Linked DNA regions of Homo sapiens: regions 2 and 3 are each linked to region 1. The links come from fine-mapping of genetic effects on gene expression. A gene starts in region 1. Each other region holds a variant in brackets. All regions are shown on one strand. Distances are between the middles of the regions.

Evidence for each region. PIP is the estimated chance that this variant, and not a neighbour inherited with it, causes the effect.
Region 2: its variant is fine-mapped to the expression of CEP164 in whole blood (INTERVAL, PIP above 0.99).
Region 3: its variant is fine-mapped to the expression of CEP164 in whole blood (TOPMed, PIP above 0.99). The same link has a PIP of 0.9 or more in thyroid.

Annotation. Positions count from the first base shown.
Region 1 is chr11:117,324,822-117,333,001 of GRCh38, forward strand. CEP164 (centrosomal protein 164) reads left to right here and starts at 3,033. Exons shown (of 33, transcript NM_014956.5): 1 at 3,033-3,083. RefSeq lists a silencer at 3,101-3,350.
Region 2 is chr11:117,357,233-117,365,412 of GRCh38, forward strand. CEP164 (centrosomal protein 164) reads left to right here. Exons shown (of 33, transcript NM_014956.5): 6 at 4,603-4,761; 7 at 5,172-5,306; 8 at 6,197-6,274. Among named protein-coding and RNA genes, the nearest start is that of CEP164, 33 kb to the left of the region's middle. The variant C/CT (reference allele first, on the strand shown) is at 3,704.
Region 3 is chr11:117,385,878-117,394,057 of GRCh38, forward strand. CEP164 (centrosomal protein 164) reads left to right here. Exons shown (of 33, transcript NM_014956.5): 15 at 1,326-1,535; 16 at 4,900-5,031; 17 at 5,122-5,338; 18 at 6,349-6,426; 19 at 6,619-6,750; 20 at 7,127-7,249. Among named protein-coding and RNA genes, the nearest start is that of CEP164, 62 kb to the left of the region's middle. The variant C/G (reference allele first, on the strand shown) is at 4,895.

The DNA.
Region 1 (8,180 bases):
TGAAACCCTGTCTCTACTAAAAATACAAAAATTAGCCTGGCATGGTGGTGACAGAGTAAGACTGTATCTCAAAAAGCAAACAAACAAACAAACAAAAAACCAGATTGATTGCAAAGATTGCAAATTCTTAGATATAGGGACCAAGTCTACAAATGGTTTTTTGAATCCCTGTTTTGTGCAGGTTTGTGGTAGATGAGCTGGTGAGCCCAGAATTCCTTCCCAGTCTGGTCCCTTTGGCCCCTCAGTGAGACCTTTATTTATTTATTTATTTATTTATTTTTGAGACAGAGTCTCACTTTGTCACCCAGGCTGGAGTGCGGTGGCGTGATCTTGGCTCACTGCAACCCCTGCCTCTCGGGTTCAAGCGATTCTCCTGCCTCAGCCTCCCAAGTAGCTGGGACTACAGGTGTGTGCCACCACGCCCAGTGAATTTTTGTGTTTGTAGTAGAGACAGGGTTTTGCCATGTTGGCCAGGCTGGTCTTGAGCTCCTCATCTCAGGTGATCCACCTGCCTCACCCTCCCGAAGTGCTGGGATTACAGGTGTGAGCCACCACAGCCTGGCCTACTTTTTTCTTTTTTTGAGACAGAGCTTCGCTCTTGTCAAACAGGGTGGAGTGCAATGGCGAGATCTCGGCTCACTGCAACCTCCACCTCCTGGGTTCAAGCGATTCTCCTGCCTCGGCCTCCCGAGTAGCTGGGATTACAGGTGCCTGCCACCACAACCAGCTAACTTTTGTATTTTTAGTGGAGATGGGGTTTCACCATGTTAGCCAGGCTGGTCTCAAACTCCTGACCTCAGGCGATCTGCCTGCCTCGGCCTCCCAAAATGCTGGGATTACAGGTGTGAGCCACTGTGACCGGCCAAGACTTTTAAAGAAGATGGAGAGGAAAGGGGACGATGATTTGTCATTTACAGTAAGAATAAAGGAAGTATAGGCATAACTGCTGCAGAAGGATTTAAATTTAAACATGATGACGTCAATCTAAATAACAGAGAGGGAAACTCCAAAAGAAAATGATATTTATTTAGAAGTAGCATTGCAATAGGTATACACATGCCATAGAGGCTGGGCAAGTAGGACCTTTTTTTTTTTTTTTTTTTTTTGAGACGGAGTGTCGCTCTTGTTGCCCAGGCTGGAGTGCAATGTCGAGACCTTGGCTTACCACAGACTCCGCCTCCTGGGTTCAAGCGATTCTCCTCTCTCAGCCTCCCGAGTAGCTGGGATTACAGGCATGCACCACCATGCCTGGCTAATTTTGTATTTTTTAGTAGAGATGGGGTTTCTCCATGTTGATCAGGTTGGTCTTTAACTCCTGACCTCAGGTGATCCACCTGCCTTGGCCTCCCAAAGTTCTGGGATTCCAGGCATGAGCCACTGTGCCTGGCTCAAGTAGGAATTTTTATTTTATTTATTTTTTTAGACGGAGTCTTGCTCTGTCACCCAGGCTGGACTGGAGTGCAGTGGCTTGATCTGGGCTCATTGCAACCTCCACCTCCCGGGTTTAAGTGCCTCAGCCTCCTGCCTCAGCCTCCTGAGCAGCTGGGACTACAGGCGTGTGCCACCATGCCCAGCTAATTTTTGTATTTTTAGTAGAGACGGGGTTTCATCATATTGGCCAGGCTGGTCTCGAACTCCTGACCTTAGGTGATCCACCCGCCTTGGCCTCCCAAAGTGCTGGGATTACAGGTGTGAGCCACTGTGCCTGGCAAAGTGCTAGGATTACAGATATGAGCCACCAGGCCCGGTCGATAGTTTTTGTTATCAGGTATTCATGCGTGAGAACCCTCTCTTCATGGTCTTCCCTGGCTCCATTTGTCAGGGTTTTAAAACAAATGACTCTATTTTGATTTTGATAATTTTCACAAGGAATATGCTCTGTATATTCCAACAATCTGAGTTTCTCATCCTGGAATCAGCCTCTGAGTGGCACTGGGACTATCCTGAGTCAGCTACATCTCTAGAACCTATCAGGAGCGGCTCTATGAGCTTGGCCTCATCATTTTCCTCCTCAACTAGCAGCATCTGTATTTGTCTGTTTCTCAGTTTTCCTATTGATGTAATGGCCAGAACTTTCTTTGCCCCTCTTAACTTCTCTAGGAGGTTGGAGACATATGAGAGAAAGGAAGATTTGCCCTCCGTGCAAGCAAAACTAAAACTCTTCGGAATTATATTAGTAGCAACCTTTCTGCCCGACAGGGTGTGTGGAGGAGCTACACATTGTGTCACTTTTTTTCTTCTTCAATAGACTCTTTGAAATAGTTATGACAGACATTACTATCCCCATCTTGCAGACATACAAACTGAACCCTGGGCTTTGGTGAAAAGATGGATAGTAGAAAATAGGTTTAACTCCTGGTCAGGTGCTCACTGGTTTAATAGGAGCACAGGAGAGCCAGTTTTTTTGCGGGGAGAGATGGGGAGTGGACGCGTCTCCATTACCTTACATTCACATTTGTTTTGTTGATTAAAGTAACAATGGGTTGATTATTGATGACCACTGTATTATTCACCTGATGTTAATCATACTCCTAACAAATGATCAATTAGATAATTAGATAATTCACATTAGTATAAATACTCTAAATAGTCCTTCTCTGTCCTGGCAGAAATCCTCACGTCTAAACTCGGGGTCCTCTTTTTTTTTTTTTTTTTTTTTTAGTAGAGAAGGGGTTTCACCATGTTGGTCAGGCTGGTCTCGAACTCCTGACCTCAGGTGACCCACCCGCCTCGGCCTCCCAAATTGCTGGAATTACAGGCGTGAGCCACCGCGCCCAGCCGATGAGGTTCTCTTTCAACCTCTTGCGGATTCCCATTATCTATCTTAAACTACACTCTTTCAACCTCTTGCGGATTCCCATTATCTATCTTAAACTACACTCCCATCGTGCAACGGAAAACGGACAGAGCTCCTGCGTGCACCGAAGGGACTTCGAGCCAATCCATTGTCACAGCTCTCAGCCGGCGACCTATTGGCTCCTGCTGGAGGCGGGACTCCCGGTTGCTAGGCGGTACCTTTTCCGGAAGTGTTTGTTGCGCGCTGCAGGGCAACACCCCGGCGTCCCTGGAAGCTGGGGGAGCGGGTGGGTGTTGGGTGGCGTTGGGGGAGCTGCGCCTCGCCCAGAGCCTCGCCCGGAGCCTCGCCCGGAGCCTTCCGGGGTGGGGGATAGTTGAGGACCTCATCGAGGGAGGGGTTGGGCGGCGGGGAAGGGAGCGAGCGTGGCGGGGGACCCGAGGCACGCTCTCGAGCCAACGAGCGTGATGCGCTCGAGTGTGGGCGGGGACTGAGGGAAGAAGTGAAAATCGGACTGCCAGGCGACAGTTCCTCCGTTTGAAATCTCGCCGGCTCCTGAGCGGGCCACCGGGCCCGGGCTGGGGGTCTGGCGGGTGAGTGAGCAGCGGGTCGGGACGCGGGAGAGGGGCACTGGGCACGGGGCCCTGGTTTGCTTGCTCTGTTCATCGTTGGCGAGTGAGGCCAGGCCTTCCGAAGCTTGCTGGGATACTTCTGTGGCAGGCTTCCCCCCGGGTCCAAATCCGGGGCTAGCCCAATCTTATGCCATCTTTGGCCAGCTGGGAAAGTTGGAAAGCTTTTTTGTTTTTTCCTTTTCTTGCATTGGATTTAAAAATGTCCCTCTACCTCTGGCACCGCTCTCCTCACTTGGCTTCAGCGACTCCCTGTCCGTTCTCCTAACTCAGTCCTTGGCAGTAGAAAGCTCCCTTCTACTCGGCGCACTCCATCTCTTGCGTTATCAGCTTTTCAGCGTTGACTCGCCAAACTACTCCAGCCAGACCTCTTTCCTGAGCTCAGACCTGCTTACTGTCATCGTCAGCCTTCCCCGGTCCCTCCGATCTGTTTCTCCTCTTGTATTTTTTTATCTCAATGAAGGGCTTCACCATTCACTCAGCCAAGTCTGTCCCTTTAATTTATTCATCTAATAAATACAGCAAACATTTGTCGGACATGCCCTGTCTTCTAGGCAGTGTAGTAGGTGGGGCTGCCTATTGGACGAGGCATAGAAATGAACACATCTAGAAATGATAGTCACAGTGTTCTGGCTTTAGTGCTCTGATTTCCCTCCTCTCTCCCGAAGTTCAAGTCCTGTATTCTGCCTCTTAATTCCCCTAGAATCTGGCGCTTCCTTTCCATCCTCACAGACACTGACTTAGTTCATAATTTCTTGCTTGTGCTTTCAGGATAACTTCCTAAGTGGTCTCTCTGCCTCAGTTCTTGTCCTCCTGTAATTAGTTCTTATGCAGCTGTCAGAATCATTTATTTATTTTAGAGACAGGGTCTTGGTATGTTGCCCAGGCTGGAGTGCAGTTGGTATTCACCGGTGTGACCCTAGTACACTGCAGCCTCGAACTCTTGCCCTCAAGCCATCCTCCCACCTCAGTCTCCTTAGTAGACGGGACTACAGGCATGCACCACTATTCTTGGCTAGAATCGTCTATCTGACCTACAGATCTGGTCATGCCAGTCTCCTTTGTGAAATCCTGTGATGGCCCCTCATCATTTACAGGATAGAGCCTCTGTTCTTCCAGGCCCTTTATAATATGCTCTTGCCTTTCATTCTAGAGCTCTGTCTTGCCACTCCTCCCACTGTCCCTTGCACTCTGGTCATGTCAGAATGGTTAAGAGTTTGGGCTTTGGAGTCAGACATGGATACTTACATATTCTGCTCTACCGTTTATTAGCTGTGACACCTTGGGCAAGTTTGTTTGTTTGTTTGTTTGTTTTGAAATAGAGTCTTGCTCTGTCGCCCAGGCTGGAGTGCAGTGGTGCGATCTTGGCTCACTGCAGTCTCAGTCTCCTGGGTTCAAGCGATTCTCCTGCCTCAGCTTCCCGAGTAGCTGGGACTACAGGTGGGCACCACAACTCCTGGCTAATTTTTTGTATTTTGGTAGAGACGGGGTTTCACCATGTTGGCCAGGCTGGTCAGGATCTCCTGACCTCATTATCCGCCCACCTCCGCCTCCCAAAGTGCTGGGATTACAGGCGTGAGCCACTGCGCCTGGCCTTTTTTTTTTTTTTTTTTTTTTTAACTTTGCTAAGCCTCAGTTTCCTTATTTGAAAAGTGAAGATAATTCTATTTTGCTGAGTGGATGAAGTGAGATGATGTATATAGAGCACTCAGTACAGTTCCTGTAACATAGGAAGTGTTCAGTGGCTATAAGCTTTTGTTGTCATAATTAATTCTTTGCACCCACCTTATGATTTTCTTCTTTTTTGCCTTTGTGCATGTTGTTCCTCTGCCGTGAATTCCCTTACTCCGCTTATCCTGGGGATCACCTGCTTATCCTTCAAGAACTATCTCAATTGTCCTCTGTGAGGCTTTCCCTGATCTTCCTAAGATTATTTGCCCTTACCTTTGTGTTCTGTTATATATTATGTTACTTCCTTTAATTCATGTAACACATTTTGTAGTCATGTGTTTACGTGTTTGGCTTTCCAGGTAGGCTGAGCTCAAGTTCAGGGCCATGTGTAATCAGGTTTGTAGCCCTAACACGTCGCACAATGTCTGGCCCATGGTGGGTGTTCAGTAAGTGATTACTTGGCGCGGTGACTCACGCCTGTAATCTCAGCACTTTGGGAGGCCAAGGCGGGCGGATCACCTGAGGTCAGGAGTTCGAGACTTGGCCAACATGGTGAAACCCCATCTCTACTAAAAATACAAAAATTAGCCGGGCGTGGTGGCAGGCGCCTGTAATCCTAGCTACTCGTGAGGCTGAGGCAGGAGCATCATTTGAACCTGGGAGGCAGAGGCTGCAGTGAGCAGAGATCGTGCCATTGCACCCCAGCCTGGGTGACAAGAATGATACTCTGTCTCAAAAAAAAAGCAAAGAAAAAGTGATTACTTAATGTCTGAATGGCCTTAACTTATATTGCCTGGTGCTGGATATGTCCTTTGGAGCAAGGTAGAATAAACCCTTTTAAATAGGTGAATAGCAGTCATAATAATGTAATGTCTAACATTTATTGAGACCTTAGTATATTTTAAGCACTTTACATGTATTGAATCATATAAGCCTCACAACACATTGTGATGGATATTGTTAGTACTCTCATTTTATAGATGAGAAAACTGAGGCTGTCCAGCTAGTAAGAGGCAGAGCTGGGATTGAAAGCCAAGAATGTTCCAAAGCTTTTGCTCATTACCACTGCGTAATCAACTCTGACATCTTCCACCTTCTCCCCTTTACCTTCTCCAGTCAATCTTTTCTGTGGTCAACCTTCTTTGTAATTGTTGGAGCAGGGTGGAAGAAATAAATATACAGAGAACCCTCATTATGTCTGTGAGTGTATATTCTCTGTTAGTGTGCAGATGTGCAAAACTCTAGCTATGCTGACAAAGTACAGGGCAAGGTAGCCACAATATTGAAGGACTGGGAAACGATATGTACTGAATGGAAGAGAACTGGGAATACTTAGCCTACCTTAGCTAGAGAATCCTAGGGTGTCCCCAGATGAGCAGAAGGCAGACTTGAGATACCAGGGAACATTTTTTTAGAACCTGATTATTGGCTTACTATTAGACCTTCTAATAGTTAAGAATTATCTAACTATGGAATTGAAAATAGAATCTGTAATACTAGCTAAATTTGTGTAACTTTTCTGTATACAGGGACTGTGCTAGGCACTTTATAAGTGTTGTTTCATTTTACTTTCAGGCTTTTTGATTTTTGTTAAGATTGTTTTAATTATACACATGCAGTTATTGAGGCTGAGAGAGGTGAAGCACCTTGCCTAAGGTCATACAGCTGCTAAGTGAGAGAGCTGGGATTTGAATCCAGGTCTTCTGTCTCCAAAGCTGGTACTTTGACCACTATGCCGCCTGTCACTGGAAGCACAGAGAGGAAAATTTTGGCATGGGAAGGAAGGTGGACCAAAACTACTGCGGGTCTTCCTAGCTTCTGAGATTGCTGGTGTATTTTTTTTTTTTTTCAGATAGGGTCTCACTCTGTTGCCCAGGCTGGAGTATGGTGGTACAATCATAGCTCACTGCAGCCTCGAACTCCTGGTCTCAAGTGATCCTCCCACCTCTGCCTCCCCACTTTACACTCTTTATGTAACTCTGTCTTCCTTTCCATCTGATCACATAGCTCCTGCCTCAGCCTTCCGAGTAGCTGGGACCACAGGTGCACGCCACCATGCCTGGCTAATATATATATATATATATATATTTGTGGAGACAGGGTCTTACTATATTGCTCAGGCTGGTCTTGAGCTTCTAGGCTCAAGTGATCCTAGGCCTTGGTCCCCCATAGTATTGGGATTACCGGTGTGAGCCACAACACCCGGCCTATTCCTTGGTTTTATATTAGCAGTTACAGCAGTAACTGAGCTCCGACAGCTTACATAGGCTTATTTTAGGCTTTGTTGGAAAATTCCAGAGGAGGAGACATGGCCCTCAGAAGTTTGTGGTTTAACAGGAGAGGTAAGAAGACACATTTTCATAAAAAAAGTAATATTGGCCAGGCACGGTGGCTCACGCCTGTAATCCCAGCACTTTGGGAGGCCGAGGCGGGTGGATCACCTGAGGATAGGAGGTCGAGACCAGCCTGACCAACATGGAGAAACTGCATCTCCACTAAAAAAATACAGAATTAGCCAGGCGTGGTGGCACATACCTGTAATCCCAGCTACTCAGGAGGCTGAGGCAGGAGAATCGCTTGAACCCAGGAGGCGGAGGTTGCAGTGAGCCGAGATCGCACCATTGCACTCCAGCCTGGGCAACAAGAGCGAAACTCCTCTGTCTCAAAAAGAAAGAAAGAAAAAATAATAATATTGAGAGAAATCTGTCTGGGAACACATGAAAATTATGAGCTCAGTGCTAAGGTGGTTCTGGGTTGACAGGAGAGGATAAAATTGGCTGGGAAGGCTTCCTGGAGGAAACGTGTGAGCCACTCCTTTTTTGCCTGATTCTGAGATTGGTAGGAGATGCATGAGTGCAGTTGGGTGACCCCTCCTAACTCTGGCTCACAGAAGGTCTCAGGCTAGGCAGCAAGTAGATCTCACTGGATTTCATCTCATCTATTGGTAACTGCTACGTAGTGAACAATGTTGAGGGTTCTGAGGCCATGTCTAGGGTGCCATAATTGACTAGTGATGTCCTTCACAGTTTTAGGCCTGGAGGAAAATAGTAGGACATGTCCTATTTGTTTGCCATGGCAGATCTAAG
Region 2 (8,180 bases), 32 kb after region 1:
AATAGCTGGGATTACAGGTGCTCACCACCACTCCCAGCCAATTTTTTTGTGTTTTTAGTAGAAATGGAGTTTTGCCATGTTGGCCAGGCTGGTCTCGAACTCCTGGTCTCAAGTGATCCACCTGCCTTGGCCTCCCCAAGTGCTGGGATTATAGACATGAGCCACTGCACCTGATTAGAGAGTTAATATTCTTTTTTTTTTTTTTTTTTTTGACAGTCTTGCTCTGTTGCCCAGGCTGGAGTGCAATGGTGCCATCTCAGGTCATTGCAACCTCCACCTCCTGGGTTCAAGCTATTCTTGTGCCTCAGCCTCCTGAGTAGCTGGGACTACAGGCGTGTGCTAACACACCTGGCTAATTTTTGTATTTTTAGCAGAGACGGAGTTTTGTCATGTTGGCCAGGCTGGTATCAAACTCCTGACCTCAAGTGATCTGCCTGCTTCAGTCTCCCAAAGTCCTGGGATTACAGGTGTGAACTGCCGTGCCTGGGCTGAGAGCTAATATTCTTATGAGAGACGGAGGCCAGAACCTTTCTCTGCCATCCAGTGAGCTGCTTCTGCTCTTTGCCTCCTAGGGTCCCCAGAAAACCACATGGATAACCTGTGTCAGGCTTGTGTAGACCATATTTGTGACGTCACTCTTGAGTTCACTTCCTCCTCTACTGGGATTTATCAAATGGCTGACCTTGCCCTATCATTCTACCTTTGTCCCTTTAAAGAGTCACTATATTCTTCATTCAGAAGTCAAGTTGGATCAGAGACCATGGGGATCAATCTGAATTTCTCCAGCTATTCTTTTGTTGTTGCCCAGCTGTGGCTTTATCCAGTTGTTCCCTCTGCTTCCTAATTGCTGGCTTGCACTGGTTCTCTGTTAGCTTTAATAACTACTGTAGCACTATAAATATCGGATAAGCTGCAGATTATCCTGAAAGTTTTAATTAGCCCAGTGGCAGTAAGTCTATCTGCTCTGAAGGACAACTCCACGCATAGCCCCATACTCAGAGTTAATGGCCATCTATAGAAGATGATCAGCTAGGAGCCAGGAATGTATAATTTCTCCACTAATCGCTGATTTGGTCAAGGCCTGGGAGAACAAAGCCCTCAGCATGCTTGTCTCCCTCCCTCAAGCCCCCAGCATGTTAGCAAATTAGCCAGCCATGTTAGGAGTCTGTATTTCCATAAATACAGTGTGGGGATAATTTTGCTTGCTGATACATAGGCTGGTTTGAAGGGCTGAAACCAGGAGGGGCATGCCTGGTTTGCCTAGTTAACCTTGAAGAAGCTTTCTTGGGCTCTTCCCCTCCCCCGGCCTTTTTTTTTTTTTTTTTTAAGAGACCAGAGTTTTGCTCTGTTGTCCATGCTGGAGTTCAATGGTGTGATCGTAGCTCATTGCAGCCTTGAGCTCCTGGGCTTAAGCAATCCTCCCGAGTAGCTGGGACTACAGATGTGTACCACTATACCCAGCTAATTAAAAATTATTTTTTTGTAGACATGGGGTCTTACTGTGTTGCCCAGACTGGTCTTGTACCCCTGGCCTAAAAGTGATCCTCCTGCCTTGGCTTCCGAAAGTACTGGGGTTATAGGTGTCAGGGACCATGTATGTCCTAGGCTCTTCTTTCTGCCACAGCCAGAGCTGGTATAAAGTACTGTCTTAGAGATAGCCTTGGGTTCCAATCCCATCTCTGCCCCTCACTGGCTCTGTGACTTTGGGCAGGGTTCTTTTTTTTTTTTTTGAGACAGGGTCTCACTCTGTAACCCAGGCTGGAGTGAAATGGCATGATGTCACCTCACTGCAACCTCTATCTCCCAGGTTCAAGTGATTCTCCTGCCTTAGCCTCCTCAGTAGCTGGGATTACAGGCACCTGCCACCATGCCCGGCTAATTTTTGTATTTTAGTAGAGACAGGGTTTTACCATATTGGTCAGGCTGGTCTTGAATTCCTGACCTTAGGTAATCCGCCTGCCTCAGCCTCTCAAAGTGCTGGGATTACAGGCGTGAGCCACCACGCCCAGCCTGGGCAGGGTTCTTGACCTCACCAACCTCCGTTTGCTCGTATGGGGACTGTGGATAATGGCAGAGCCAGTCTCAGGTGGTTGTGAGAGTAAAATAAGACATTGTACGGAAGGTGTTTAGCCAGTGCACTGCTGGCTGGTGTTACGATTATCAGCTCGTTTTCTCCTTCACAAACATGTTCTACAACAGGCCAGATGATTGTGGACCTGCAGAAGCTCAGGAGTGTCTCTCACCTTACTTTCCTGATGAGCATCTGATGCAGAAATGGGCCCTGCTGGGAACCCACCCACCGGTCTGGCCCCTAGGCTGAGGCTACAGGTGAGAAGATGGATCTTCTGAACCTCAGCCTGACCGCCTCTGGGTTTCCTTTTCTCTCTTCAGTCTTTGTGGGATTAGGGAGGATTGGAATTTTTGTGTCATCTTAGACATTTTAAGTTTGAGAAATGAATTTTGAAGGGGTCTTTGTAAATTGTCACCAGATTGCCATCCTTGCTTCTGATAAGCCTAAATTATTGTAATGTGAATCCCTGTGATGGTGGCAATTTTATAATGCTGGTGTAGCCCTGGGCCACTCACAAAGGCCCCTAGCACTCATCTCCTTGAGCTTCTCTGCACACCTAGTCAGGTGGCAAGGCACACATCATCTCCATCTTGCGGATGAGTAAACTGAGAATTGGAGAGTCTGTGAGTAGCGGGAGGTCTCACGAATTCTGACTCGTAGCCTGATTTCTTTCCCCAGCCCTTGCTTGCAGGAAGGAGAACAGGGAAAAGAAGGGACCTGGTCAGCCCCACTACTGCCCTTCGGCAAGGCTCCTTTCAGCCACCTTCCTCATCAGTGGAGAGGGGAGAGAGTCCTTCTTTTGTTGCTCATGTGTATTTTTTTTGTAGTTAGTGTTGATTTTTTTTCCAGACAGGGTCATTTTTATTTTTTAGAGGCAGGGTCTTGCTCTGTCTCCCAGCCTGGAGTGCAGTGGTTATATCTCACAGTGGTTCTATCTCACTATAACCTTGAACTCCTGGGCTTAATTGATCTTGCCGCCTCAGCCTCCCAGGTAGCTAGGACCACAGGCGTGTGTCACCATGTCCAGCAAATTTTTTTAATTTTTTTGTAGAGACAGTGTCTCACTGTGTTGCCTAGGCTGGTCTGAGATAGGGTCTTGTTCTGTTGTCCAGACTGGAGTACAGTGGTGCCATCATAGCTCACTGTAGCCTCCAGCTCCTGGGCTCAAGCAGTCCATCCTCCTCAGCCTCCTGAGTAGGTGCGACTACAGGTGCATGCTACCCCATCTGGCTAATCTTTAAAATATTTCTGTAGAAATGGGGTCTTGCTATGTTGCCCAGGCTGGTCTTGAACTCCTGGCCTTAAGTGATCTTCCTACCTTGGGCTCCCAAAGTGCTGGGATTACAGATGTGAGCCACTATGCCTTGGCCTTAGATTTTAATCAGAGTAGTGCATGTCCGTAGTTAAAAAAGTCAAATAGTACTAAAAGGCATATAAGAAAGTATAGCACTTCACTGTACAGAGCTCTCCTCAAAGGCAACCATTCTGTTGTGGTGTTTACATCCATCTTTGTAAATAATACACTTAGACTGCTTTTTCTTGACTCATCAGTTTTAAACTTTATCAACTGAGAATTCTTCTGGTAGATGAGGATTTGTCTCTGCTTTCCCCTCCCGCATCCTTCTTATATGG[C/CT]TTTTTTTTTTTTTTTTGAGACAGAGTCTCGCTCTGTCGCTCAGGCTGGAGTGCAGTGGTGTGATCTCGGGTCACTGCAACCTCCGCCTCCCGGGTTCAAGTGATTCTCCTGCCTCAGCCTCCTGAGTATCTGGGATTACAGGCATGTACCACCACGCCCAGCTAATTTTTGTATTTTTAGTAGAGACAGGGTTTCACCATGTTGGCCAGGCTGGTCTTGAACTCCTGATCTCAGGTGATCCACTCACCTCAGCCTCCCAAAGTGCTGGAATTACAGGCGTGAGCCACTGCGCCTGGCTTTTTTTTTTTTTTTTTTTTTTTTTTGAGACAGAGTCTTGCTCTGTCACCTGGCTGAAGGGCGGTGGCGTGATCTCGGCTGACTGCAACCTCTGCCTCCCGGTTTCAAGTGATTCTCCTGCTTCAGCCTCCCGAGTAGCTGGGACTATAGGCACCCGCCACCACGCCCGGCTAATTTTTGTATTTTTTAGTAGAGACAGGGTTTCACCATATTGGCCAGGCTGGTCTCAGACTCCTGACCTCGTGATTCACCCGGCTCTGCCTCCCAAAGTGGTAGGATTACAGGACTGAGCCACCGAGCCCGGCCTCCTATATGGCTTCTGAAAGGAGAGCAGAACCCCACGCAGCATCTGCCAGATGTAAAAGAACTGTTTACTGTGAGACAGCATGAGACTTATGAGAATCAGGAAACCAGCCTGTGATTTCTCACACAGTTGGCACAATGGTAATTTCTGGATGTTGTGTTTCATTAGCAGCCTCTGAGCGGAGGTGGTTTAAATTTGAGCGTGCAGGATTTAGATGTTTTATTTTTATATCTGTCTCCGACACTCCCAGAGCCACCTGGTTTCTTGAGTTGTAACAAGATGTTTTCTGTTGCACAGGCCTTGGGTTCCTCATTAGCCCCAGTTCATGTTCCTCTTGGGGGCCTGGCTCCTTTACGAGGTCTTGTGGATACCCCACCCTCTGCTCTTCGTGGATCTCAAAGCGTGAGCCTGGGGAGCTCAGTGGAGTCTGGACGTCAGCTTGGAGAACTCATGCTGGTAAGTACGTTCTCTTGCGTTCAGTGTCTGTAGTTCCTGTGGGGCCTCCCGTGTGCCATACCAGGAACTATGGCCTAGGGGTGAGAAATAGACAGAATCGGTGGAGTCCTCAGAGTTCGTAATCCAGTTGGGAAAATGTAATTCGCACCTGTATGAATGTGGACTCTGGGCTGTGGAGGATAGACCCATGCTGTAGGGACATCAGTGCTGATTTCCAAGTCTCTGCAGCCAAGGCAGTAGGAGTAGGCAAAGGGAGTCATTGATGTGAGCTGCAGTCGCCAGGTCAGCTTCATGGACATGGTGGCACTTGATCTGGGAGACATTGACATAGAGAGTGGGGAGGAGCATTCTAAAGGTCATTCCAAAGGTCTTCCAAGTGAGTCCTTTGACTGTCCTTCTCTATTTTGAAGCCTTCACAGGGTCTCAAGACCTCTGCTTATACAAAGGGTCTCTTGGGCTCCATATATGAGGACAAGACTGCTCTCAGCCTCTTGGGTTTAGGAGAAGAAACCAATGAGGAGGATGAGGAGGAAAGTGACAACCAGGTAATGATGAAGTCCTCTCCCTGGCCTGGAAACCCTCTGTGCCATATTTTTTCCTTTTGAAAATGTTTTTGCTGTGATAGAAAAAATATGTAACATAAAATTTGCCCTTTTAACCATTTTAAAGTTAAAATTCAGTGGTATTAATTACCTTCACAATGTGTGCACCCAACACCACTATCCATTTCTTTTTTTTTCTGCACTCCCCCGCCGCCACTATTCATTTCTAGAACTTGTTCATCATCCCAAATAGAAACTGTGTACCTATTGAATGATAACTTCCTATTCCCTCTCCCTCCATCCCTGGAAACCTAATCTGCTTACTGTGTCTATGAATTTACCTATTCTAGGTACTTCATATAAGTGGAATTATACAATGTTTGTCCTTTTGTGTCTGGCTTATTTCACTTAGCATAATGTTTCAAGCTTCATCTATGTTGTAGCATGTATTAGAACTTTGGTCCTTTTTAAGGCTGAATAATATTCCATGGTATGGATATGCCACATTTTGTTTATCTACTCATCTGTCGATGAATATATATGGGTTGTTTCCACCTTTGGCTGATCTCTGTGCTACTTTTTAAAAAAGCAAGAAGTTTTTTTGGCCTACAGCTTCATTTCTTGAGCAGTCTATTATGTCTTCTAGATCTGATCCAGAAAGTACAGCCAGCAGAAAGCACCTTGGCCACTTGCTTGTTGCACAGCATAGTTTGCGCTGGATGGAGAGCCGTTTAGTGAGGCTGCCTCAGTGGTGGTCCTGCTCTGAGTCCTCTGAAGCCCTGCCTGGGCCCGCCTGTCAGCTCAGCAGTGCCCCACTTTTCCCTCTGCACACCCCTCACCCTGGGTTGACCAGTTTCTTCAGAGTTACCACTTGTCATCATTTTTGTTTCTAGAGTGTCCACAGCTCAAGTGAGCCTCTTAGGAACCTACACCTGGACATTGGGGCACTGGGGGGTGACTTTGAGTATGAGGTAAGAGCCCTAATCCCTACAGGCACATGTGTCAGCCTGGCATATCCCTCCTGTTTTTATTAAGCCCTGCTACTTTGTTGTAATGCATATTTGGAAAAAGAACCATTTTGTCCCAGTCCTTCCAGATGAGATTTCTGGGGTTTGGGGAAGGACAAGAATAAATGAATGGATTCCTGTCCCTTCCAGACCCTGCCTCTAAACAAACAAACATCAACACTCATTATGTTATTGTAATACCTAAAACCTCCAATGCTTTTTTTTTTTTTTTTTTTTTTTTTTTTAAGAGACAGAGCCTCACTCTTTTGCCCAGCTTGGAGTACAGTGGTGTGAACAGAGCTCACTGCTTTGAATTCCTGGGTTCAAGTGATCCTCTGCCTCAGCCTCCTGAGTAGTTAGGACTACAGGCATACGCACCCATGCCTGTCTACTTTTTACATTTTTTGCAGAGATGAGGTCTCTCTGTTGACCAGACTGGTTTCAAACTCCCGGTCTCAAGCAGTCCTTCCATCTTGGTCTCCCAAAGTGCTGGAATTACAGGTGTGAGCCATTGTGCCCAGCTATGTGTTTTTGTACTTAGAAAGGAGCTTTCCCTACCATGTATCCTTTGTTTAGTGTCCAGTGTATTCATTTAAATATAACATTTCTCTAAATATTCCCTAAGTATTTATACAACCAATGAATCATGAACTCAACAATTAGATTTCCCCAAATATTTAAATATTTGTTGCAGGCTCAATCAGTTAAACTTTTCACAAGTCTAATATATCAAGTTCTTTTAAATACTTTCAATACCTTAACATCAAACAAGTCACTCACACTTTATTAGAAAGATCACAAAACTGGCCTGTAAAACTTTAGAAGTGCTTATATCCTGAATTTAAATTTGTTTTCTCATTATCCCTTATTATTTCTGACTTGTTTCTTGGAAATCACTTTACCTTAAGAGCCAGGATTGGTGTCTCAGGCCACTTGAAGTTTCAGATGTGCTGGCTGATAGCCCCTGATTTGGTACTTGAGACCTGAGTTGTGGGTGACCCAAGTCTAGCCATTGGACAGGGCTTTTTTTTTTTTTTTTGAGACTGGGTGTCACTCTGTTGCCCAGGCTGGAGTACACGTCAGCCTCCCAAGTAGCTGGGACCACAGGCGCCCGCCACCACACCCGGCTATTTTTTGTAGAGATGGGGTTTTGCTATGTTTCCCAGGCTGGTCTTGAACTCCTGGGCTTAAGTGATCCACCTACCTTGGGCTCCCGAAGTGCTGGGATTACAGGCGTGAGCCACTGTGCCCAGCCTAGGACTCTTTTTGTAGTTAGACTTTGCCTGTAACCTCAGAAACTGTTCAGCATTTTGGCTCTGCACAGTCAGATACCTTTTGATTATGACTTTACAATTTCTTGCCAAATGTGACACTTTTTTCTAAGTGTCCCGTTTTTATTATCAAGCTGATATAGGTCTGCTTTGAAACTGTTCCTTCTGAGTGGGGCCTAGTCTGGAAGGATTAAATCTAAAGCCTTCAATCTGTTTAGTTCCCTGAAATGACAACTTTATTTTCTTCTCCACCACCAGTAAGACCTATATTGATCAAAGGAGATGCTCAGGCTTTGTGCCTAGAAGGTTGACCATGTATAGGACTAGGGGTGTCAGAGGACTTATTTGCTTGTGGAGGAAGAAGACAATCTCTATGAGAATGAGCAAGTTGAGGCTGGAGATTCTGCCCTATTCATTTCTGTATGGCCAGGAAGCAACTAGCCTGCTGCCTCTGAAACATAGGAAGTGCTTGGGTATGTTTTGTTCAACAATCGAGAGAGTGAACTTGTGAATGAGTGAATGAGCCACCTCGGGACAGAGAGAGTGTCCAGGCAGGTTGTGTCATATTTTTTTCTTCACTTGGCTTTTCCAGTTTCTGG
Region 3 (8,180 bases), 61 kb after region 1:
TGGTAATTCAGAGATGACAGTAGCCTGTCCTGTCTTCCTCTCTCTATAGTCTCAAGGTGCTGCAATGGGATTCGTAAGCCCTTGTTTTCCTCTACTGTTCTAATCCGGTCCTGCCCGCTGCTTTCCATCTGCAGCGGGGCTCGAGCTGGAGGGAGAAGGGATTCTGAGTCCACAGCAGGGAGGACCAGCTCCCCTGTTTGACTCTTGCCCAGCCCTCTTTGTTTTGGATCATGCCCACACTTTCCGCTTAGGTTGACTGAGCCACCATGCCAGGCCTGCAACAGCCTGAGTGCTGTGCGAGGAGGGTGTGTGGTGAGGCCACTTTCCACCGTAAGATTGAGGGACCTGGACGTGGAGACACATTCTGGCCTTTAGGAAAGTCACTCTGGGAGACAAAATGCTTTATCCTGCTCATGGTTTCCTCATGCTTTATCCTGCTCATGCTTTATCCTGCTCAGAATGTTCTCAGGATTCCTCTTTGGGCATTTCGTTGAAGAACCAGAAAACAAGCAAAATAACAGTCCTTATTACTTTATACACATCTTTTTAATGGATACCATTATTCCTGATCTCACCACCCTCCTATGTATCCAGGTCAGCTCTGAATTCCTTTTATTCATTTCTAAACATTTAATTAACTCTAAGCAGACGAAAACGTGCCCCCATGGGTAGACGGGGAACATGGCACTCATGTGCATGCTTGCTACATTTTTTGGCTTAGGGGAGCATCTCCTCCTGGCCCCCTTGGTGGTGTGATAGGGGAGCTTCCTATTCCTGGGCCTTCCTGGACTGTTGTAGTTCTCAGAGCTGGGATACCTGCTGCTGCTTCTTTCATGGGCCCATATACATTGGCCACTACTCAGTTTGGGAGGCAGAAAGCAATCTCTGGGGACTGTTCACAAATTGCTGGCATGAGCCTTAAGTAGCAGGCAGAGCTCTAGCGGGGAGGTGGTAACGGGGCTGTGAGCCATTCTAGGAAGGAATCCATTAGGGACAGAGCTTCACTCTCTCCCTGCTGCTGCCAGCTCTTGAGCCGCAGCTTCAGATTTTGATCTTGGGCCATAACCTCGTAAGTCTGCTGAGAGCCTGCTATGGGCTACCCTTCTCCCTAGGCTCTTGGGGCCTTAAACAGCCACAATGGGGCTTGTCCTATGGAACAAGCATTGACTGTATCTCTTGGCCTGCCCTTGGGTGACCTCTTTGACTCCTGATTGTGGGCCCTCCATTAGGATTCCATCTGTGATGTTCCGTATCCATTCTAACCTGGATGCAGAGGTGGGTGGACATTAACCCTGTGATGATATGCCATTCCCCACCCATGGTAGGCGATCCACAGAGCCTGTGGCTCCCCCAGAGCAGCTCTCAGAGGCTGCACTAAAGGCCATGGAAGAGGCAGTGGCCCAAGTACTCGAGCAAGACCAGAGGCACCTGCTGGAATCCAAGCAAGAGAAGATGCAGCAACTGCGGGAGAAGCTGTGCCAAGAGGAGGAAGAGGAGATCCTCCGGCTTCACCAGCAGAAAGAGCAATCTCTCAGGTCCTGCCCTTCCCCTTAGGCATGCTTCCTGGGGCCTTTCAGGGATGTGAGGAGCCAGGGACACCCTCTTAGCCTGGGGACCACTGGGATGCCCATGGTTCTACTAAGACCAACTAAAGTTGGGAAACTTGACCCAACAATTTCTGCTTATATCTCATTGGTTACACCTAGTTGCAGAGAACACTCGGAAATGTAGTCCTTTAGCTGACCTCTTTACCCCGTAGAATAAAAGCAGGGTTCTGTTGGTAAGGAAGAAAGGGAGAATGGATATTGAGCTGTTAATGAGCCATCTGTCACAGTCCCAGGTTGGGAAAGGTACTACAAAAAGGTGTTAACATATTTCATTTACTTGGCAATTTAACTAAAGGCTAAGTCTTGTCCTCTTGTACAGAACATCCAAGAGTGGTAGAAAATTATTATTTTTAGATGATACCTAGCAAAGTATATATAAAACATTTATGCTTAATTTAGAGAATATAAAACAGAAAACCAACATACAAGTACTGGGAAGGTTGGAGCAATCTCTCATGAGTCCAGCGCAGGAAGCACTGACATAGGGTCTGTCCTTATATCACATCCTTGTGGGTCCTCCACCAGGGAGCATCCCAAAGAACAGACACCTCCAACCCCCTAGCATCCTCCAACCCCCTAGCATCCTCCTCTTCCAGCCAACTGAGAATTGGGGCAGGGGCCCACCCAAGCAGGATGTGACTCACCTTAAGGTGCAGCACCTTGGAGGAAATCCTGGCGCTGTGTCCCTGCCAGCCCACCAGTCTCCTCCCCTCTTGCTGGCCACCCTGAGCTTGGCTGACTGTGCTTTCCATCTCTCTCCCGAGGCCCCTGACTCCAGAGGCCCTCTTAGGTTGTGGGGAAGACTGGCATGCTAGAAGTGTCTTGATTCATGGCCTGGAACATAGCAGTTGCTGAACAAATGGTAGCAATTACTTTTCAATGGAAATCAATGCATATTCAGGCATTCTTGACTAAGTGATTTCTCTGTGGACACTGCCTTCAAGGCCTGGCTTTCTTCAAACTAGTTCATCACCAGAACCTGTTTCTGTTTATGCCCAAGCCTTTCTGAGGAATGGGCTCTCCTTCCGTCTGCTGGGAACTTCCATGTGGTAGAAATTTCTGGAAGCCACAGCTGATCTTGTAACAAATATTTCTGGAATGAGAAGGCAGGCAGGCTGGCCCTTAGCTTCTTTCACTGTAAAATGAAGGGATTGGACTTAAAACTTCTAAAGTCCCTGCCAGCTCTAACACTGTGTTGCTGTGTGTAAAATTTAGCCATAGGACAAAGAGAAAAGGTTTCTGGGGAATCTAGAAGGAAGGATTTTTACTTAATTCAAATTTTCTCTCTTTTTTTTTTTTTTGAGACAGAGTCTTGCTCTGTCGCCCAGGCTGGAGTACAGTGGCTTACTCGGCTCACTGCAAGCTCCGCCTCCCAGGTTCACGCCATTCTCCTGCCTCAGCCTCCCAAGTAGCTGGGACTACAGGCGCCTGCCACCATGCCTGGCTAATTTTTTTTTTTTTATTTTTAGTAGAGACGGGGTTTCACTGGGTTAGCCAGGATGGTCTCGATCTCCTGACCTGATGATCCGCCTGCCTCGGCCTCCCAAAGTGCTGGGATTACAGGCGTGAGCCACTGTGCCCGGCCAAATTTTCTCTCTTAATGGAAAAAAGTAATGATGTTAGTATCTTGAAATAGGAAAGAATCCTAAGTCTTTTTTTGGCTTTAGGATTTGCTACAGAAGCTTTTCAAAGGAATTGTCTTCCGAATCACGTTTTTCCTAGGTTTGAATTCCCTGAGCGCACAGCACACATCCCCTGGTCGTGTGGGGCTGTGTGAGGAGTTACCCAAAAAGGATGTGGTTTGTGTAAGCAGGGGGATGTCTGCTTAGGATGAAATGGCCACTGTTGTTGGTGTGTAAATAAGATAACCTTTCATAGATATCACGGCTTGCTTATAGTTTGGGGCTGGATGATGCTGTTCAAATTCAATTAATTTATTAAGCACCTACTTTATGTCAGCTACTATGTGTGGTACCTGGGATATAACAGATTTTAAGACAAGATTCTTTCTCTTGAGAAGCTCCCAGACTTGCAAGGAAAACAGAGATACAGAAGATGAATTATGATGCCATGTGACGCATGGTGCAGAGTAGCATGGGATAAGAAAGGTCCACATGTAAAGTGATGGGAACAGAAAGATGAATTGATGAGCTTGTAGGGAGTTGGAAAGACTTCCCAGAGAGGGAGCTGAGTGTTGAGGAATGAATATGGGTTTGCCAGATAGAAAAGGGAATTCTTGGCAGAGAACCTAGGAAGGAAGAGTGTGGTAGAATGGAGGGATGGTGACTCAGCTGATGTGGCTAGAACAGAGTCTGTCGGAGTGAAAGAATGTGGAATCTGGTTGGGTGGCTATAGCTATCCTTGAGTGAGTGCCATGCTGAGGTGAAGCTGTTGACAGAGGGGAGCCTTTGGAAGAAGTGCTGTACTACCAAAACCCAGAAGCCAGTAGTTTGCTTTTTTTTTTTTTTTTTTTTTGGAGATAGAGTCTTGCTCTGTTGCCCAGGTTGGAGTGCTGTGGTGTGATCTCAGCTCACTGCAACCTCTGCCTCCCAGGTTCCAGCAATTCTCCTGTCTCAGCCTCCCAAGTAGCTGGGATTACAGGTGTGCGCCACCATGCCCGGCTAATTTTTGTATTTTTAGTAGAGACGGGGTTTCGCCATTATGGCCAGGCTGGTCTCGAACTCCTGACCTCAAGTGATCCACCTACCTCGGCCTCCCAAAGTGCTGGGATTACGGGTGTGAGCCACCACGCCCGGCCATTAGTTTGCTTCTTGAAGCAAAGGGGAGTTCATGGTCCCTTCGTAATCCTGGGAGGTATTAGGGAGGCAGCAGTGGACCTAGAGGCTAAGGTTAGACTCATCTTTAAGATTTAGGAAGCTTTGACTGGGCGCAGTGGCTCACACCTGTAATCTCAGTGCTTTGGGAGGCTGAGGCTGAAGGATCACTTGAGCCTAGGAGTTCAAGACCAGCCTGGGCAACATAGCGAGACTCCATCTCAACAATTAGCTGGGTTTGATGGTGCATGCCTGTGGTCCCAACTACATGGGATGCTGAGGCGAGAGGATTGCTTAAGCCCAGGAGTTTAAGGCTGCAGTAAGCCATGATCACACCACTGCATTCCAGCCTGGACAACAGAGCAAGAACCTGTCTCCAAAAAGAAAAAAAAAAAAAAAGATTTAGGAAGTTTCTTAGGCAGGCAACAGGGCTATTGGAGGCTGAGAGCCATAGCTTATGAATAGAAGAAAGACCTTTGTGGTTTCTCTGACAACCTAGCCTTTCCTTTCCAT[C/G]TCAGTTCCTTGAGGGAGCGGCTGCAGAAAGCCATTGAGGAGGAGGAGGCCCGGATGAGAGAGGAGGAAAGCCAGAGGCTATCCTGGCTCCGAGCTCAGGTCCAGTCCAGCACACAAGCAGATGAGGACCAAATCAGGTAAGTGTGTGCTTACCTGTGAGCTGCCCAGCCCTGCGGAGGCGACCCCAGGGTGCACAGGCCCGTTACCATTCCACTGTGTCCACCCAGGGCTGAGCAAGAGGCTTCCCTGCAGAAACTGAGAGAAGAGTTGGAGTCTCAACAGAAGGCTGAGAGGGCCAGCTTGGAACAGAAAAATAGGCAAATGCTGGAGCAGCTCAAGGAAGAGATAGAGGCTTCGGAGAAGAGCGAGCAGGCTGCCCTGAATGCTGCAAAGGAGAAGGCTCTGCAGCAGCTGAGGGAGCAGCTGGAAGGGGAGAGGAAAGAAGTGAGCTAGTCAAGTGGGGACCTCACCCTCTGACCTGTGTCTGGGCTGCCTGGGGAGGGACTGAGTGCACAAGGAGAAGAAGGGCAAGTCTCGGGTGGGCGTGCAGGCTGGGGAGCCAGGTGGAGAGTAGGTCTCACACACACAGGCATGGGAGACAGCGAGATGACCACCTGGGCCCATTACTCCATATGGACCGAATCGGCTCATGACAGGGCAGAGGATGCAGCAGGCATCACAAGGCTCCTCCAGGGTCAGGCTGGATGGCAGTGGCGGCTGGAGGTTGTCAAGCAGAGAACCCTCAGAGGCTTGAGGGAGAGCGTCCTGTGGATTTGAGAAAGTTCGTGACTGAAAGAGATTTAGCCAGACCAGAGGTTTTGAGACAAAGGCGCTCTGTCCCTCACTGTCTCTGAGGGACAGCTGCAAGGGCCTCACTCCCCACTTTTCTCTCCTTTCTTAGGATGAGAGGCTAGCAATATAGCAAGGATTTTCTCTTTGTCCATACTCCCTCTTCTACTCCAGTCAGATGGTGGGCTTCTGAAGGTTTTAGCACAGTCTCTCTGAGCACTTGTAGTACAGTGCACTTCCCTACTCCTGCTGTAGTGTTTTCCTTGTCTAATAGCTGCAGCTTTGCACCTCACCAAAATAAAAAGAAAATTCTACATGGCCCGACTTAATGACAGCATCCAACCTGGCCCCCCTGGCTTGGATCTTATTTACCAGCATGAGCACCATCTGTGGATCTGTGGCCTAGTCTAAAGGCAGGGGGTGGGAGCAGAGAGCCGAAACTTACTGAAATGCCCCTCTCCTCTGACCTTCATGTTCCTGTTCATTTGCCAGTTGTAGACTTCAGGGGCTGAGTTATTTCAGAGGAACAAAGATGTGCTGTGCTTCCCCATGCTTCCCTTGACCCTGATCTCGAGGGCTTGGGGGTCGGTAGTCTTCCTGGCTCCGCCTCCCACCATGATCAGTACCTGGCCAGCTTCACTCACAGTCCCTTTGCTCCTCCCCAGGCTGTGGCAACGCTGGAGAAGGAGCACAGTGCTGAGCTGGAGCGGCTCTGCTCCTCATTGGAGGCCAAGCACCGGGAGGTAAGATGCAGCATCCTGGGCCCCCTTCATGGCTGATTAGCAGAATTCAGCCCCATCCCTGGCTACTAGGCAGCGAGCCTCTCTCTCCAGCCCTGGGGGATGGATGCCAGGTCCTCAGAACACATCCCCACACAGCAGCTGTACAGTCTGTCTGAGGGTCACACTCCCCTGTGTGTGCGGGGGCCTCCTCAGGTGGTCTCCAGCCTCCAGAAGAAGATACAGGAAGCTCAACAGAAAGAGGAGGCCCAGCTGCAGAAGTGCCTTGGGCAAGTGGAGCACAGAGTTCACCAGAAGTCTTATCACGTGGCTGGGTATGAGCACGAGGTGAGTGCTGCTCTGTCTTCCACAGTCGTGTGCGCCTGTTGTGGACTCTCTTACAGTCAGCTGAGCCGGCCTAGCCTCAGCGGCCTCCAGTTTGCTTTGGATGGCTCAGCTGGGGTTAGCATTTCTAGTTCCCTTTTTATGCCTTAGTTCCCTTGAAGCCAGGTACTCCTCCAATCTGATGCCCCTGTATGCATGTGGGGAGGGGGTGTTGGGGTATGGCTGTGTGCTGACCATGGTGTCATGGCTGTGTGATGTGCATGTGTTGTGTGTGTTGGGGGAGATTGGGGAAATGTGTGTAAGACCTTCAGGTGCAGCAGGCCCTGAGTGCTGGTCCGCCTCGGTTCTTCATGCCACATCCCTGCCATCTCCCCTGCAGCTCAGCAGTCTCCTGCGAGAGAAGCGCCAGGAAGTGGAAGGGGAGCATGAGAGGAGGTTGGACAAGATGAAGGAGGAGCACCAGCAAGTGATGGCTAAGGCCAGAGAGCAGTATGAAGCTGAGGTAGCTCAGCCACATCCCCTGCGCGCATGCACACACATGCACACACACATGCACGCACATGCACACACACATGCACACACACATGCACGCACATGCACACACACCCCGGGGTCCTTCCCACCTGGCTGTGGGGCAGAGGAAGGGGATAAACTGTGGTCAGGGATTGTGGGAGGTTTTCCTTCCTGGTACCCTGCCACGATGATGTTTTTTGCCTTTTTTATTAAAACATGAGAAAAACCTCCACCTAATGGGGGGCAATTCCTCTTTTATCAGGCAGGCTGTACTTTCTTCTGATAGTAAAAAGAACCCCCATACATTGAGCTTGTACTGTGTGCCAAGAACTGTTCTGAGCTCTTTATCTATTTTAACTCATTTAGTCCTCACACCAGCCTTAGGAAGGATCTACTATCATTGTCTCCATTTTAAAGATGAGGGCACTGAGACTTGGAGAGTTTAAGTAGCTTCCCAAGATCACACCCAGCCAATAAGTAGAAGAGCTAGGATTCAAGCCCAGGCCATCTGACTCCAAAGCCTTCAGTTTCCTCACTGCAATGCTGTGTCACCAGGGTTCCTCAACATCTTGGGACACCAAGAAATAGACTGGCAAGAGCCAAGTAATACTGATATTCTCCCCATTTTAAGCCTTTGGTCTTAAGGTAGGAAAGTTCAGCGACTTGAGTTTACCCAAGCTGGCCTGCCTTGCTCACATTGAGGGTGAACAATGGGTGGGTAGAGGGTGGCTGACTATAGCCCACAGCTGGGACCCTGCAGGGTGTTAAGACTACTGCTCCAGTAACTGGAACCAGTATCCCAGACTCTTTCTAGGATCTTTCCCAGGGCAGAAATAGCAGTCCCATGATGAAATTTGCCATATCCCTTCCCCCAACCAATTATGACCTTGCTGAAGAATAGTGATAATTTATCAGTGACC